2 separate regions of the Homo sapiens genome follow, and region 2 is linked to region 1. The links come from fine-mapping of genetic effects on gene expression. Tissue or cell type: aorta. Region 1 holds a variant in brackets; the other region holds the start of a gene. All regions are shown on one strand. Distances are between the middles of the regions.

The links. PIP is the estimated chance that this variant, and not a neighbour inherited with it, causes the effect.
Region 2: it holds the start of MRPL45, and the variant in region 1 is fine-mapped to the expression of MRPL45 in aorta (GTEx, PIP 0.95).

The regions. Positions count from the first base shown.
Region 1 is chr17:38,246,938-38,255,041 of GRCh38, forward strand. It overlaps the pseudogene NPEPPSP1. Among named protein-coding and RNA genes, the nearest start is that of MRPL45, 46 kb to the right of the region's middle. The variant G/C (reference allele first, on the strand shown) is at 4,465.
Region 2 is chr17:38,292,551-38,300,654 of GRCh38, forward strand. MRPL45 (mitochondrial ribosomal protein L45) reads left to right here and starts at 4,618. Exons shown (of 8, transcript NM_032351.6): 1 at 4,618-4,699; 2 at 5,899-6,076; 3 at 6,801-6,918. The coding sequence starts at 4,634. LOC105371760 (a long non-coding RNA gene) reads right to left here and starts at 3,055. Exons shown (of 3, transcript XR_934732.2): 1 at 2,944-3,055. RefSeq lists enhancers at 3,954-4,502, 4,503-5,053.

The DNA.
Region 1 (8,104 bases):
CCAATGTCAAGATACCTGTACAACATTATACATGCCAAATCACACAGCACATTACTACTGCAACCATTTGAGAGAAAGTATTTGTGCATTTTGGAAAGGCACCATGCACAACATCCAATTTCAAGTACCTTCCAACTCCTCCTGTGTTTAGGGGAAACTCATCTATTTATACTAATGAATTAAGCTGTTTCTTGAATTGCTACTAATTTTTTTTTTCCAGGATACTACCATTTCTGGAAGGGTGGGAGGGAGGAACCAAAGGAACAAAGGTACTTATCTTAAAAATAGAAATCCATTCACATTTTAAAAATTGGTCAGCATCTTGTCTTATATTAGAGATGCACTTATTTAAAAAGTTGACCAATAATGGGATAATCTATGTAAAGTCTCTGTTTTAGCACTTAGTGCCTCATATGTAGTCATCACTTAATAGATGTTAAGACATACATATACACACACACAGGTTAAATTGTGCTCTCATATCATCTAACAGCATTCACCTAACAGTTTATAAAGCTTCTGATCAGAATGATATGAAGTTTAAAAACTATGTATTGTATTATATGGCACTTTGGATATCAGCATATGTGTACTACCCCAAGAAGGTAATTTAAAATATCTGTCTGGACATAAGTGTATGTGCTGACTACAACGCAGTATAACACTGCTCTTTGTGATGCTGCTCTTCCAAACAGTAGTGCTGACCTGATGGTGTAGTACATGATTTCTCACCTTTGACACCTTCATATTAGTAAATATTAGCTGTGTGTTCCACTATCAAAAAAACAGGTAATAATTCAAAGAAATTTCAGCATTAAAATCTTCAGTTTCCCAGTTTAAAACACAAGTGAAACAAGGTTGGCATATAAAAGTGCACTGATAACAAGCTCATTTTCAATTTTTCTACTTGATGTTATTAAAGGATAGAATGTTAGTGTATCCTTGCTTTGTTTCAAACCCAGGATTAAGTCTTCTTGGCCTCCTATATAGACTGCACTTCAACTGAGCCAAATACTAAGTAAGGGCTGTACCAAAGAGGCAGCTTGACGCCTGGTAACAACTTTACAATGGAAGTTTCCTATGAGCTAGGGAGGCAGAAATCGGAGATAACATTTTCCTGAATGAGTCTTTACTATAGTCACTCAGGAACATATCTTACATGTACGATAGTAAGACTCAAGAGGGTTTTTTTCTGATTGTCAATGTCCTGAGACTTCAGTAAAAGAAAATCTCCAGTGTGACAATTCCAAATGCCAGTCTGAAGCCTGAGTCAATTTGCCTAATAAAACTGATTTCACCATTAAAATAGCAATAATTGTTGCCTTGGTGGAACAGTTCTATAATAGCTAAAGACAAGAAGAAGCAGATAATTAGTAAACTCAAGTTGAGCCAAGTTTTCTAACAAGAAACACTGAAAAGAGCCATTTGCAGAAGGTCAAAAATAATTACCATTAATGTAAAAATGCAAAAGGCACAGAATATTGGTATGTGATGTTTGTGGCTACTAATATGCAATTAAAGTTTTAAACTATACGTAGGAATAAAAAGGAATAATACGCACCTACCTGAAGAAAGAAGTTACTTCTAGAGGCAGGGTGGGACGAGATGGAAACGGGCTTTAGTGGTATCTGTGACATTTTATTCCCCCCCAAAAAAAGCATGCACAGTCTGATGAAAATGGGGCAAAATGTTAACATCTGTTTAATCTCATAGTGTGTGACTTTCTTGTATTTCTAAAATACTTCCTAATTTAAAATAAAATTTTAAAGAGATTACAAGTGACCAAATAAACCAAGAACCACATACTTGTATGGTGTTCAAAACAAAATCACTAAAATCTAGAGAACTAATCTCAGTTAACAACAAAAGCCATCCGAAGGCTCAGTTATTTCCCACTGACTCACATACAGATTAGAGTAAGATTTACTTCACAACAAGAGCAGGCTCATTTATGTGGCAAAGTTCGGAGAAGCTTCACAGATAATTTACTACTCAAGACCACATTTACCCAGGTTGTATCAGAGTATCAGTTGTATCTAGAACCAGGAAGCTAAAAAGAAAGAAAAAAAAAAAGGCCTGGATGAAAAGCCAAAATAGGTGATACAAAGTCCGTACAATAAAACACATACCCTTTACTCAGAAGAGAATCCAACAAACTCTCACACAGCAATTGATTTTTTAGCCCAAACAAGCTTGTTTATCTGGCTACTAAGGCTTCTTCAGATGAAGTTCAGTAAAATACAAGAGGGAAGAAATTGCACAACAGGCAGCAACAAGGCACAATAAGCAGCAAGAAGAATCTGAGAGTAAGGAAAACAAAACAATTTTAAAGAACAGACACAGGCTAGCCGGGTGCGGTGGCTCAGGCCTGTAATCCCAGCACTTTGGGAGGCCGAGGCGGGTGGATCACAAGGTCACGAGTTCGAGACCAGCCTGGCCAATATGGTGAAACCCCTTCTCTACTAAAAATTCAAAAATTAGCCTGGCATGATGGCAGGTGCCTGTAGTCCCAGCTACTTGGATGAGGCAGGAGAATCGCTTAAACCCGGGAGGCGGAGGTTGCAGTGAGCTGAGATCACGCCACTGCACTCCGGCCTTGGCAACAGAGCAAGACTCTGTCTCAAAAAAAAAAAAAAAAAAAAAAGAACAGATATGGACTAGGCGCGGTGGGTCATGCCTGTAATCCCAGCACTTTGGGAGGCAGAGGCGGGCGGATCACCTGAGGTCGGGTGTTTGAGACCAGCCTAGCTAACATGGTGAAACCTGGTCTCTACAGAAATACAAAAATTAGCCAGGTGTGGTGGCATGCACCTGTAATCCCAGCTACTAGGGAGGCTGAGGCAGGAGAATCCCTTGAACTAGGGAAGTGGAGGTTGCAGTGAGCCGAGATCGCACCACTGCACACTCCAGCCTGGCCTAGGCAACAGAGTGAGACTCTGTCTCAAAAAAAAAAAAAAAAAAAAAGAACAGATATGGCTTGGCGCGGTGGCTCACACTTGTAATCCCAGCACTTTGGCAGGCGGAGGCAGGCAGATCACCTGATGTCAGGAGTTCAAGACCAGCCTGGCCAACATGGTGAAACCCTGTCTCTACTAAAAATACAAAATTAGCCAGGCGTGGTGGTGCATGCCTGTAATCCCAGCTACTAGGGAGGCTGAGGCAGGAGAACTGCCTGAACCCGGGAGGCAGAGGTTGCAGTGAGCCGAGATTGTGCCACTGCACTCCAGCCTGGGCAACAGAGCGAAACTCCGTCTCAAAAAGAAAAAAAAAGAAAAAAAAACAGACATGAAACTGATAAATTATAGTACATAGTTTGGGGTCAATAAGAGATGTTCAGAATAAAGTTCAGTATTTAAAAAAAACAATGAAACAAACCTACACTATGAGGAATTGCAAAGCATAAAAAGATAATGTATTTTAGAAATATTTCCATTCAGATTAGTCAACTTTTTTTTTTTTTAAGACAGGGTCTCGCTGTGTCACCCAGGCTGGAGTGCAATGGCGTGATCTCAGCTCACCGCAACCTCCGCTCCTCCGCTTCCTGAGTTCAAGCAATTCTCCTGTCTCAGCTTCCCGAGTAGCTGGGATTACAGGCATGTGCCACCACGCCCGGCTAATTGTTGTATTTTTTTGTAGAGATGGGGTTTCATCATGTTGTCCAGGCTGGTCTCAAACTTCTGACCTCATGATCCACCCACCTCAGCCTCCCAAAGTGCTGGGATTACAGGCGTGAGCCACCACACCCAGCCTAGTAAACTTTTTTAAAAATGTCTAAGGGCCTCAAAGGGTAAACTTCAGTTATCTGGAAAAATCACTGCAGAATTCATTGCCAGATGAATTAGACAAAGCTTAGCATACAAAACTATTATACTTCTTTCCTCATAGATACATTTCAAAAAACAGAAAATCTGAACAAATTCAATTCCTTATCACCAATATTTTGAATTTAATTTTATATATATGAATTTTTTTTAAGAAAATTTCTTCCTTTTTTTTTTTTCCCTGGAGACAGGGTCTTGCTATGTTGCCCACACTGGTATCAAACTCCTGTGCTCAAGCAATTCTCCCACCTCCACCTCCCAAAGTGCTAAGATTACAGGAGTGAGCCACAGTGTCGGCCAAAATGATTACATAGAAGATATGCAGAAAATGGCCAGGCACGGTGGCTCATGCCTGTGATCCCGGCATTTTGAGAGGCCAAGGCGGGTGGATCACCTGAGGTCAGGAGTTTGAGACCAGCCTAGCCAACATGATGAAACCCTCTCTCTACTAAAAATACAAAAAATTAGCTGGGCTTGGTGGTGCGCGCCTGTAATCCCAGCTACTCTGGAGGCTGGGGCAAGAGAAACGCTTGAGCCTGGGAGGCAGAGGTTGCGGTGAGCCGAGATCGCGCCATTGAACTCCAGCCTGGGCAACAAGAGCAAAACTCCGTCTCAAAAAAAAAAAAAAGAAGCCAGGCACGGT[G/C]GCTCGGTGGCTCACGCCCATCATCCCAGCACTTTGGGAGGCTGAGGCAGGTGGATCACCGGAGGTCAGGAGTTCGAGACCAGCCTGACCAACATGGAGAAACCCCGTCTCTACTAAAAACAGAAAAAATTAGCTGGGCGTGGTGGCACATGCCTGTAATCCCAGCTATTTGGGAGGCTAAGGCAGGAGAACTGCCTGAACCTGGGGGGGTGGAGGCTGCAGTGAGCTGAGATCATGCCACTGCACTCCAGCCTGGGCAACAAGAGCGAAACTCCATCTCAAAAAAAAAAAAAAAAAAAAAAAGAGAAAATATGCAGAATTTGGGCAAAAAATTTGTAACACAGAATTGACAATAACCATTCAGGTGCCAAATTTTTAATATGCCAAACAAACTTCTATATTGGCAACTCTTCACTTAGTGCCAATTTAGTTATCTCCAACATGAATATTTTGTTAGTAGAGGCCAGGGGTTGGCTAGGATATCCTGATTTCTGGCCTTGAATGATAAACTTAGTTTCTCTGGCACAGGTAAAGTATTTCCATAAGAGAAAGCCCAGCTGGGCACGGTGGCTCACGCCTGTAATCCCAACACTGTGGGAGGCCGAGGAAGATGGAATGAGGTCAGGAGATCAAGACCATCCTGGCTAATATGGTGAAACCCCATCTCCACTAAAAATACAAAAAAATCAGCCAGGCATGGCGGCGCGTGCCTGTAGTCCCAGCTACTCAGGAGGCTGAGGCAGGAGAATTGCTTGAACCCGGGAGGCAGAGGCTGCAGTGAGCCAAGATCGCACCACTGCACTCCAGCCTGGGTGACAGAGCAAGACTCCATCTCAAAAAAAAAAAAAAAAAAAAGAATACCCAATTATTGTACCAACCACTACACACTCATAATCATAAATAGTAGTCACACACATAAACTTATAATTCATTTTAATTAATTATCCACAAACGGAGAGGATCAAAATATGAAATATCTACAAAAGTCCACTGCTCTCAAGTATCCAGTGTAAAGGGAGGGGACAGGGAATGAAATAAATTTTGGGCCTAGAGAAACTTCTGTATAATAACAAATTTTCAAAACCAGCTAGACCACACTAATGTGAAAGACAACTAATTTTTTTTTTTTTTTTTTTTTTTTTGAGACAGAGTCTTGCTGTGTCGCCCAGGCTGGAGTGCAGTGGCGCAATCTCAGCTCACTGCAAGCTCCGCCTCCCAGATTCACGCCATTCTCCTGCCTCAGGCTCCTGAGTAGCTGGGACTACAGGCTCCCGCCACCACGCCCAGCTAATTTTTTGTATTTTAGTAGAGATGGGGTTTCACCATGTTAGCCAGGATGGTCTCGATCTCCTGACCTCGTGATCCGCCCGCCTCGGCCTCCCAGAGTGCTGGGATTACAGGTGTGAGCCACCGTGCCCGGCCAAGACAACTAATTTTTAAATCACTGAACATGGACTAATTTCTTCACCTTCTGCAGCAGTCCACACCCCAGGCCAGGTTAAAAATCCACTAAGTTGGCCGGGCATGGTGGCTCATGCCTATAATCCCAGCCCTTTGGGAGGCCAAGGGAAGGGGATCACCTGAGGTCAGGAGTTCGAGACCAGCCTGGCCAACATGGCAAAACCCCATCTCTACTAAAAATACAAAAATTAGTTGGGCGTGATGGCACACACCTGTAGTCCCAGCTACCCAGGAGGCTGAGGCAAGGAGACTCACTTGAACCCGGCAGGGGGACAGGGTGGAGGCTGCAGTGAGTCGAGATCACACCACTTCACTCCAACCTGGGAGAAAGAGCGAAACTCCGTCTCAAAAAAATAAAAATAAAAAATAAAATAAATCCACTAAGTTTCTAATATGTAACCTGTACAAATACTCTGGGCTTATCGTAAAATTTTGTAACTAAAGCAACTAAGCAACTTGCATATTTTGTGTTATGTGATTCCAACTGTTAGGAAACTGATCCAATATCAGTCATAAATATAGGTTTCTACAGATAAGAATTTTGTCCCCCTGCCCGGCCAGCCGCCCCGTCCGGGAGGTGAGGGGCGCCTCTGCCCGGCCACCCCTACTGGGAAGTGAGGAGCCCCTCTGCCCGGCCACCACCCCGTCTGGGAGGTGTGCCCAACAGCTCATTGAGAACGGGCCAGGATGACAATGGCGGCTTTGTGGAATAGAAAGGCGGGAAAGGTGGGGAAAAGATTGAGAAATCGGATGGTTGCTGTGTCTGTGTAGAAAGTAGAAGACATGGGAGACTTTTCATTTTGTTCTGCACTAAGAAAAATTCCTCTGCCTTGGGATCCTGTTGATCTGTGACCTTACCCCCAACCCTGTGCTCTCTGAAACATGTGCTGTGTCCACTCAGGGTTAAATGGATTAAGGGCGGTGCAAGATGTGCTTTGTTAAACAGATGCTTGAAGGCAGCATGCTCGTTAAGAGTCATCACCAATCCCTAATCTCAAGTAATCAGGGACACAAACACTGCGGAAGGCCGCAGGGTCCTCTGCCTAGGAAAACCAGAGACCTTTGTTCACTTGTTTATCTGCTGACCTTCCCTCCACTATTGTCCCATGACCCTGCCAAATCCCCCTCTGTGAGAAACACCCAAGAATTATCAGTAAAAAAATAAATTTAAAAAAAAAAAAAAAAAAAAGAATTTTGTCGCCAGGCACAGTGGCTCACGCCCGTAATCCCAGCTCTTTGGGAGGCCGAGGCGGGCAGATCACGAGGTCAGGAGGTCGAGGCCACAGTAAAACCCCATCTCTACTAAAAATACAAAAAATTAGCTGGGCGCAGTGGCGGGCACCTGTAGTCCCAGCTACCTGGGAGGCTGAGGCAGGAGAATGGCGTGAACCCGGAAGGCAGAGAGCTTGCAGTGAGGCGAGATCGTGCCACTGCACTCCAGCCTGGGCGACAGAGCGAGACTCCATCTCAAAAAAAAAAAAAGAATTTTGTGAATATTTTAAAATTCCCACAAGATACCACCTAATGCCACAATTTAAACGTATTGCTCTAATTCATGGATTTCAAAAACATTAATATATGCTTTTTACTTCTTACCAATGTTAATTTTTTTACCCTTCCAAACATGTCAATTAGTACAATTTAAAAGTCCAATCATCCTTTAATAAAACCTGTTGGAATTCACTATTGCGTCATCTTTGTGTTGCCATCTAGCCTGAAAAGAATTTCTGGAAAAAAAGTGTTTTGAAAAGTTCATGCTACTTACAAAATTTATTTATTTTTTATTTATTTCCTTGCATCAAATTAACAAGTCCCTGCTAATATCTAGTATATTACCATATGCTCACTCAATGGCACAAACCAGTCTTCCACTAAAGTAGAAAAGAGGTAAGGAGAAACATGTCACTGCTTGTTGTTCTATCCCGATACTTAAATCAAACTCACTTCTTTAATAAGTAATTATTTAAAAATCTGTACTTTTTTCTAGACTTTTCCCAAAATATGTCTGCCTCCAAAAATTATGAATCCATTTTGGCAACTAATGGGGTAAAGAAACAAATGTTTTTTTTAATGTTAGTCTTTTCACATAATGCGAACTCATTCATCACTAGGTTCTCTTTCCCAAAGGTTTGCCAAGTCACAAGACACACTACTGTTTACAATCCCTCCCATCTGCCCC
Region 2 (8,104 bases), 46 kb after region 1:
GAGTGCAGTGGCCAGATCTCTGCTCACTTCAAGCTCCGCCTCCTGGGTTCATGCCATTCTCCTGCCTCAGCCTCCTGAGTAGCTGGGACTACAGGCGCCTGCCACCGCGCCCGACTAATTTTTTGTATTTTCAGTAGAGATGGGGTTTCCGTGTTAGCCAGGATGGTCTCGATCTCCTGACCTCGTGATTCACCCGCCTCGGCCTCCCAAAGTGCTGGGATTACAGGCGTGAGCCACCGCGCCCGGCCTGCCCCATCATATTTCAACTGGAATTCTTCACATCTGCTTATTGTATAAATAAATATTGGAGTGTCTACTATGTGCAAGAGTGTTCTTTGCCAAGACTGAGCCCCTAACAATCGATTCCTTCCTCTACTTGCACAATGAGTTCTCTTCTCTTGCTCCCATCATCGTGACAAGATCTTTTTATCTTGCTTTTTCTGAAATGTGAATTACTAAGATTGTAGGATTAAGAAATACCCTTTTTGGCTGGGCACGGTGGCTCATGCCTGTAATCCCAGCACTTTAGGAAGATGAGGCAGGTGGATCACCTGAGGTCAGGAGTTCGACACCAGCCTGACCAACACGGTGAAACCCCATCTTTACTAAAAATAGAAAAAATTAGCCAGGCTTGGTGGCGGGCACCTGTAATCCCAGCTACTTCGGAGGCTGAGGTAGGAGAATCACTTGAACCTGGAGGCCGACGTTGCAGTGAGCCGAGATCGTCCCACTGTACGCCAGCCTGGGCAACAAAGTGAAACTTCATCTCAAAAAAAAAAAGAAAGAAAAGAAATATCCTTTTGGTGTTACTTCTCTAACAGACAGCTCCCAATTTTCTTCTTTTTTTTTTTTTTTTTTTTTTTTGGGGGGGATTGAGTTTTGCTCTTGTTGCCCAGGCTAGAGTGCAATGGCATGATCTCGGCTCACCGCAACCTCCACCTCCCGGGTTCAAGCAATTCTCCTGCCTCAGCCTTCCGAAGAGCTGGGATTACAGGCGCCCGCTACCACGCCCAGCTAATTTTTTGTATTTTTAGTAGAGACGGGGTTTCTCCATGTTGGTCAGGCTGGTCTTGAGCTCCTGACCTCAGGTGATCTGCCTGCCTCAGCCTCCCGAAGTGCTGGGATTACACGCGTGAGCCACTGTGCCTGGCCAGCTCCCAATTTTCCATGAAGCTGATGAGGTAGGAAGATATGAATTTTCCAAAACAGTAGCTCATCAAACAACAACAAAACTAACTTATAGCTCATCTCTAAGCAATTAAATGATATTGACTCCCCTATCATTATTTCATCCAGGCTGATATGGAACAAGTTTGTATTAACTGAGAAACTGATCAGAGGGTGGGCAGAGATGATCTGGGATGTGTTGGCTACTGTGTGAGGCTAACATAAAACTCAATGGTGGAGGAAGTAATCTAAGATAAATTATATTAATGTTCTGCATTAATCAATAATCTTGGCCAGGCGCGGTGGCTCACGCCTGTAATCCCAGAACTCTGGGAGGCCGAGGCAGATGGATCACCTGAGGTCAGGAATTAGAGATCAGCCTGGCGATGTGGTGAAACCCTATCTCTACTAAAAATACAAAAATTAGCCAGGCATAGTGGCAGGCACCTGTAATCCCAGCTACTCGGGGGACTGAGGCAGGAGAATCGCTTGAACCCAGGGGGCAGAGGTCGCAGTGAACTGAGATCGAGCTATTGCACTCCAGCCTGGATGACAGAGTGAAACTGCATCTGAAAAAAAACAAAAAAACAAACAAAAAAAACACCTCTCATCCATGGAGTAAACTTTCCTCACTTTGGTTGGGAATACCAGTAAAAATAATTCATGTTTTGGCCGGGCACGGTGGCTCACCCCTGTAATCCCAGCAATTTGAGAGGCCGAGGTGGGCGGATCACCTGAGGTCAGGAGTTTGAGACCATCCCGGCCAACATGGTGAAACCCCATCTCTACTAAAAATACAAAAAATTAGCTGGGCGTGGTGGTGGGCACCTGTAATCCCAGTTACTTGGGAGGCTGAGGCAGGAGAATCACTTGAACCCGAGAGATGGAGGTTGCAGCGAGCCAAGATTGCGCTATCGCATTCCATCCTGGCTGACGAGTGAAAACTGTCTCAAGAGAAAAAAAAAATCATGTTTTATTTTCTAGGGATTAGAGTAGGTGGACAGGAGTCTGTTAAATAATCAGATATAGCTTATTTAAATGCTTAATAACATATATTCTATTTTTTTCTTTTTTCTTGTTTCCCTATGCTTCTATAGGCACTGAATAGCTCTGTTGCCCAGGCTGGAGTGCAGTGGTGGGATCTTGGCTTACTGCAACCTCTGCCTCCTGGACTTAAGCCATCCTCCCACCTCAGCCTCCCCAGTAGCTGGGGCCACCATGCCCAGCTATTTTTTTTTTTTTTTTTTTTTGAGACGGAGTCTTGCTCTGTCGCTCAGGCTGGAGTTCAGTGGCACAATCTCGGCTCACTGCAAGCTCCGCCTCCCAGGTTCACTCCATTCTCCTGTCTCAGCCTCTGGAGTAGCTGGGACTACAGGCGTCTGCCACCATGCCCGGCTAATTTTTTTTGTATTTTTAGTAGAGACGGGGTTTCACCATGTTAGCCAGGATGGTCTCAATCTCCTGACCTCGTGATTCGCCTGCCTCGGCCTCCCAAAGTGCAGGGATTACAGGTGTGAGCCACCGCACCCGGCCTAATTTTTTAATTTTTTTGTAGAGATAGGGTTTTGCCATATTGGGCAGGCTGGTCTTGAACTCCTGGACTCAAGGGATCTAACCCACTTCCGCCTCTCAAAGTGCTGGGATTACAAGTGTGAGCCACCCCACACGACCCCACATACTCTTCAACACATACATACAGCACTAATTTCATGTCACTATTAATGTGTCGTGCTATAGGTTCAATACTGTGGCTGGAACTTGTAGGGAAATACTTACCACATAAGAATGTACGATATAGCTGCGAAGTCAAGCTTTAAAAAACGCCTGTAATCCTTGCACTTTGGGAGGCCGAGGTGGGCGGATTGCCGGAGCTCAGGAGTTGGAGACCAGCCTGGGCAACACGGTGAAACCTCGTCTCTACTAAACTAGAAAAAATTAGCCGGGCATGGCAGCGTGCACCTGTAATCCCAGTTACTCTGGCGGCTGAGGCAGGAGAATCGCTTGAACCTGGGAGGCAGAGGTTGCAGTGAGCCGAGATTGTGCCACCGCACTCCAGCCTGGGTGACAGAGTGAGACTCCGTCTCCAAAAACAACAACAACACGTGATCTCCAAACCCAAAAGTAATCTTTCAGTTCTTCTGATAGTCCCCAGCACTTTGCTTCGACCTTTGTAGCAATTCTACTTCAGCCTGAAATTTCTTGTATGTACAGCCTGTAGCTCCTAACTTATTGCAAAATATTGTAGATGAGAACTCTGTAAGCTGTAATTGGCAGAATAATAACCAACGGCTAAGTGTGGAAAGTGTCTGCCTTTCAGCAACGTTTACACTACTGAATTTACCAGGGTGATCCCAACATCACGAATCCTTTAACAACTTAACATGAAGCAGCACGTAGCAGTTACCTGCATGGGTTCTGGAATTAGACTGCTTAGATTCAAATCTCGGTTCTGCCAGTTATCATCTATCTAACCTTAAGTAAATTACGTAATTGCTCTGTGACTCCTTTCCGAAATGACAAATCACAAATGTTTTTGTCAATTCACGTGTCTTCTGCTTTAGTAAACATAGTAGAAGACAGTAGTCAATCTCTTTTTTTGTTTTTTTTTGAGACAAAGTCTTTCTCTGTCACCGACGCTGGAGTGCAGTGGCGGGATCTCGGATCACTGCAGCCTCCGCCTCCTGTGTTCGAGGGATTCTCCTGCCTTAGCCTCCCAAGTAGCTCAGACTACAGCCGCCTGCCACCAAGCCCGGCGCTCTCTTGCTGGCGCATGACAACCGTGCGTTCCACCCTACGACTAATTTTTTTTTTTTTTTTTTAGACGGAGTCTAGCTCTGGCTGGAGTCAGTGGCGCGATCTCGGCTCACTGCAACCTCTGCCTCCTGGGTTCAAGCGATTCTCCTGCCTCAGCCTTACAAGCAGCTGGGACTACAGGCGTGTGCCACCACGCCCGGCTAATTTTTGTATTTTTAGTAGAGACGGGGTTTCGTCATTTTGGCCAGGCTGGTCTCGAACTCCTGACTTCAGGTGATCCACCGGTCTCGGCCTCCCAAAGTGCTGGGATTACAGGCGTGAGCCACCGCGCCCGGCCTCCTTTTCCTTTTTTAACTAATGGAATAAACGGCAATGTGCCAAGCATACAGCAATGCCCATTCCCCGGCCTTCAGAAAGCCTCGGGCGCAGGCGCAGCTCGCGTTCAAGCGCTCTCTCGCTGGCGGGGGACAACAGTTCGTTCCACCCTACGCCCAACGTTGTCTCCCTGCGCACGCGCGGCCGTACTCCGCCCTCCTTACTCCACCCTCCCCCACTCCCGCGAGCACGTGCGCGTCCTCGCTGCTCACATTTCGGCGGAGGGCGCGCTCCCTGGAAAATTCCACTCCTGTGCTAGCTCCACCCTATGCGGCTTTTCTCCTACCCGACGCTCTTCACTCTCAGCTCCCTTCCCGGCGGCCTTTGCGGGAACAAGATGGCAGCCCCCATACCTCAAGGGTTCTCTTGTTTATCGAGGTTTTTGGGCTGGTGGTCTCGGCAGGTGGGTAGGGACGGGGCCGATAGGACCCTAGGGGCTACAGGAGAGGACAGAGTCGAGGGAAATACTCTCTGTGCAATTGTCCTTGGTGAGCTGGGACAATACGAGTCATACCTAGGCCGGGGAAGAGGCTTAGGTGGACAGGACCTAGCTGCGGAGCTCAGTGGTCGAATGGGGATAGCCTAGACAGGGCCATGAGAGCGAGTGAATTAACGGATATTAAGTTTTTCCGGATTGGTTTGGGTCTGTCTGGCGAGGAGATATTAAAGGAGAGACAAGTAATGGGTTGGAAGGTGGACTCCCTAATCTTCGATTCTTATAAGTGAACTACGTTGAAGAGTAGCCGAAAATGAGGGCGTCCCATATTGTCACTGCCCCGTCTGAGCAAACCTCATGATCAGAGAGAAAAGATCTCCTGATCTTTCGAGGGTTTATTGGTCAGTTGGGTGCTAAAACGACAGAATAAAGTTTACAGCGAGACTCCCGATAGGATGAGCAAAATATCACGAGTACATATGGAGCAGATGCCTACAAGAGGACTTTGCTTATGCTTTAAGCATAGCATTCAGGGCCCGGCGCGGTGGTTCACACTTGTAATCCCAGCACTTTGAAAGTCCGAGGCAGAAGGATGGCTTGAGCCCAGGAGTTCGAAATGAGCCTGGGCAACATATAAGACCTGGTCTTTACAAAAAAATTTTAAAATTAGCCAGATGCGATGGCGCACTCCTTAGTCCCAGCTACTTGGGAGGCTGCGGTGGGAGGATAGCTAGAGCCCAGGAGGTCAAGGCTGCAGTGAACCGTGATCGTGCCATCGCACTCTAGGCTAGCGATCTGCCTCAAAAAATAATAAAGAATAGTATTCTGCCCATTTCAGTATTGAGTTGGTGTTTCCCCATCACCATCAGTTTTTGAAACTTGCTTTGATCAACTCAGTATCCGTAGGAGTTAGCATAGTCCTGTACTGTGGGAAGTTCTAAAGGAAAGCCTTTAGTAAATGTGATGTTAATAAAGGTTGCTAACTGTCTTCTATTTAGAGACACCCATAAGTATTAAGGTCCTAATGCATTTTTTCCCTGTGATATTGTTTTATAATTGTTCCTGAAGCATTCTTTGGATATTCCCTCTCTATAGTGCTTTGCTTAGAGTTTGTAAAAGATAGTAGATCTTTTTTCTAGGTTCCTAACCTTTCCTTTACCTTCCAGCCAGTTCTGGTGACTCAGTCCGCAGCTATAGTTCCAGTAAGAACTAAAAAACGTTTCACACCTCCTATTTATCAACCTAAATTTAAAACAGAAAAGGAGTTTATGCAACATGCCCGGAAAGCAGGATTGGTTATTCCTCCAGAAAAATCGGACCGTTCCATACATCTGGCCTGTACAGGTGAGGTATTTCTGGGACCCTGACCTGGGATCCTTCTGTCAGAGATCTTCTGGAACTTGGGATGACTTGGACTATGATTGATAATATTTAATTAAGCACGAAGTCAGTTCAACCTCAATAATGATTAACCTTATATACACTATATATCATGAAGTTGTTCTTTGAACTTACTTTCACACTGTCCCTAGAAGGCAAGAGTGAAATTTCTCCATTTTGTGGAAGTAGAAACTGAGGCTCTGAGAGAAGACTTAAATCTTTCTGGCTTTTTTTGTTTTGTTTTGTTTTGTTTTTTGAGACAGAGTCTCGTTCTGTCGCCCAGTGGCACAATCTGGGCTCACTGCAACCTCTGCCCCCCTGGGTTCAAGCGATTCTCCTACCTCAGCCTTCCAAGTAGCTGGGATTACAGGCACCTGCCACCATGCCCGGCTAATTTTTGTATTTTTAGTAGAGATGGGGTTTCACCATCTTGGCCAGGCTGGTCTTGAATTCCTGACTTTGTGATCCGCCCGCCTCGGCCTCCCAAAGTACTGGGATTACAGGTGTGAGCCACTGTGCCCGGCCTTGTTTTGTTTTTTTCTAGTGTAACATAGTTCTCTCTACATGGAAGTCTGTTTCATTAGTCTACTTCATATCCACAATCCTTCCCAATTTTACATTACTTCAATTTTATGAGTTTTTCTCAATCTTTCAACACTTTCTTAATTTTTTTCTTCCTTTATTACAGCTGGTATATTTGATGCCTATGTTCCTCCTGAGGGTGATGCACGCATATCATCTCTTTCAAAGGAGGGACTGATAGAGAGAACTGAACGAATGAAGAAGACTATGGCATCACAAGTGTCGTAGGTGTCTGAGACAATTGGGTATTGGTATTAGAATAACAATTTTTTGTTGCTACTTTATCCCAAAGAGACCTTTTTGGGTTAATTGGGTTGGGTGTCATTCTCTTAATAACATGATGGTATTTTCTCCTTTGTACTAGAGTCTGTATTTAATGCAGAATAATGTGGGCTTCCTGATTCTCAGCATCCCTGCCTTTATTGGTAATTTTTGTCATATCAGTTAGGGAGTTGACTTTGGAGTGTATAGGATCCTTTTTTAATCATATATTTAATTTTTTTTTTTTTGAGATGGAGTTTCGCTCTTGTTGCCCAGACTAGAATGCAATGGCACGATCTTGGCTCACCGCAACCTCCGCCTCCTGGATTCAAATGATCCTCCTGCCTCAGCCTCCTGAGTAGCTGGGATTACAGGCATGTGCCACCATGCCCGGCTAATTTTGTATTTTTAGTAGAGATGTGGTTTCTCCATGTTGGTCTGTTGGTCAGGCTGGTCTTGAACTCCTGACCTCAGGAGGCCCGCCTTGGCCTCCCAAAGTGCTGGGATTACAGGTGAGAGCCACCACGCCCAGCCCTTTATTTATTTATTTATTTATTTATTTTGAGACGGAGTTTCACTCTTAACTCACTGCAACCTCTGCCTCCCGGGTTCAAGAGATTCTCCTGCCTCAGCCTCCCGAGTAGCTGGACTACAGACGCATGCCACCACGCCCAGCTAATTTTTGTATTTTTAGTAAAGACGGGGTTTCACCATGTTGGCCAAGATGGTCTCGATCTCTTGACCTCGTGATCCACCCACCTCAGCCTCCTGAAGTGCTGGGATTACAGGCGTGAGCCACTGCGCCCAGCCGACCTGGCTAATTTTTAAAAGAAATTTTTGTAGAGACGGGTTATCACTATGTTGCCCAGGCTGGTCTCGAACTCCTGGGCTCAAGCAGTCCTCCCACCTCAGCCTCCCAAAATTCTGGGATTACAGGTGTGACCCGTCACACCCAGCCAGTCTAGCTCTGACTGTATCTATCTTTTTTTTTAAATTTGTACTGTTCATTGCAGAGCAGGGCTACCCCATAGGCCACTGTGCCCAGAGTAGCCGCTGTCACTATATGTAAATCATGTATAGGTTTATGTGCATAAGTATATTGAGTCAGTATGAATTCTTCACATGGCCATGACTTATTTCTCTACATAT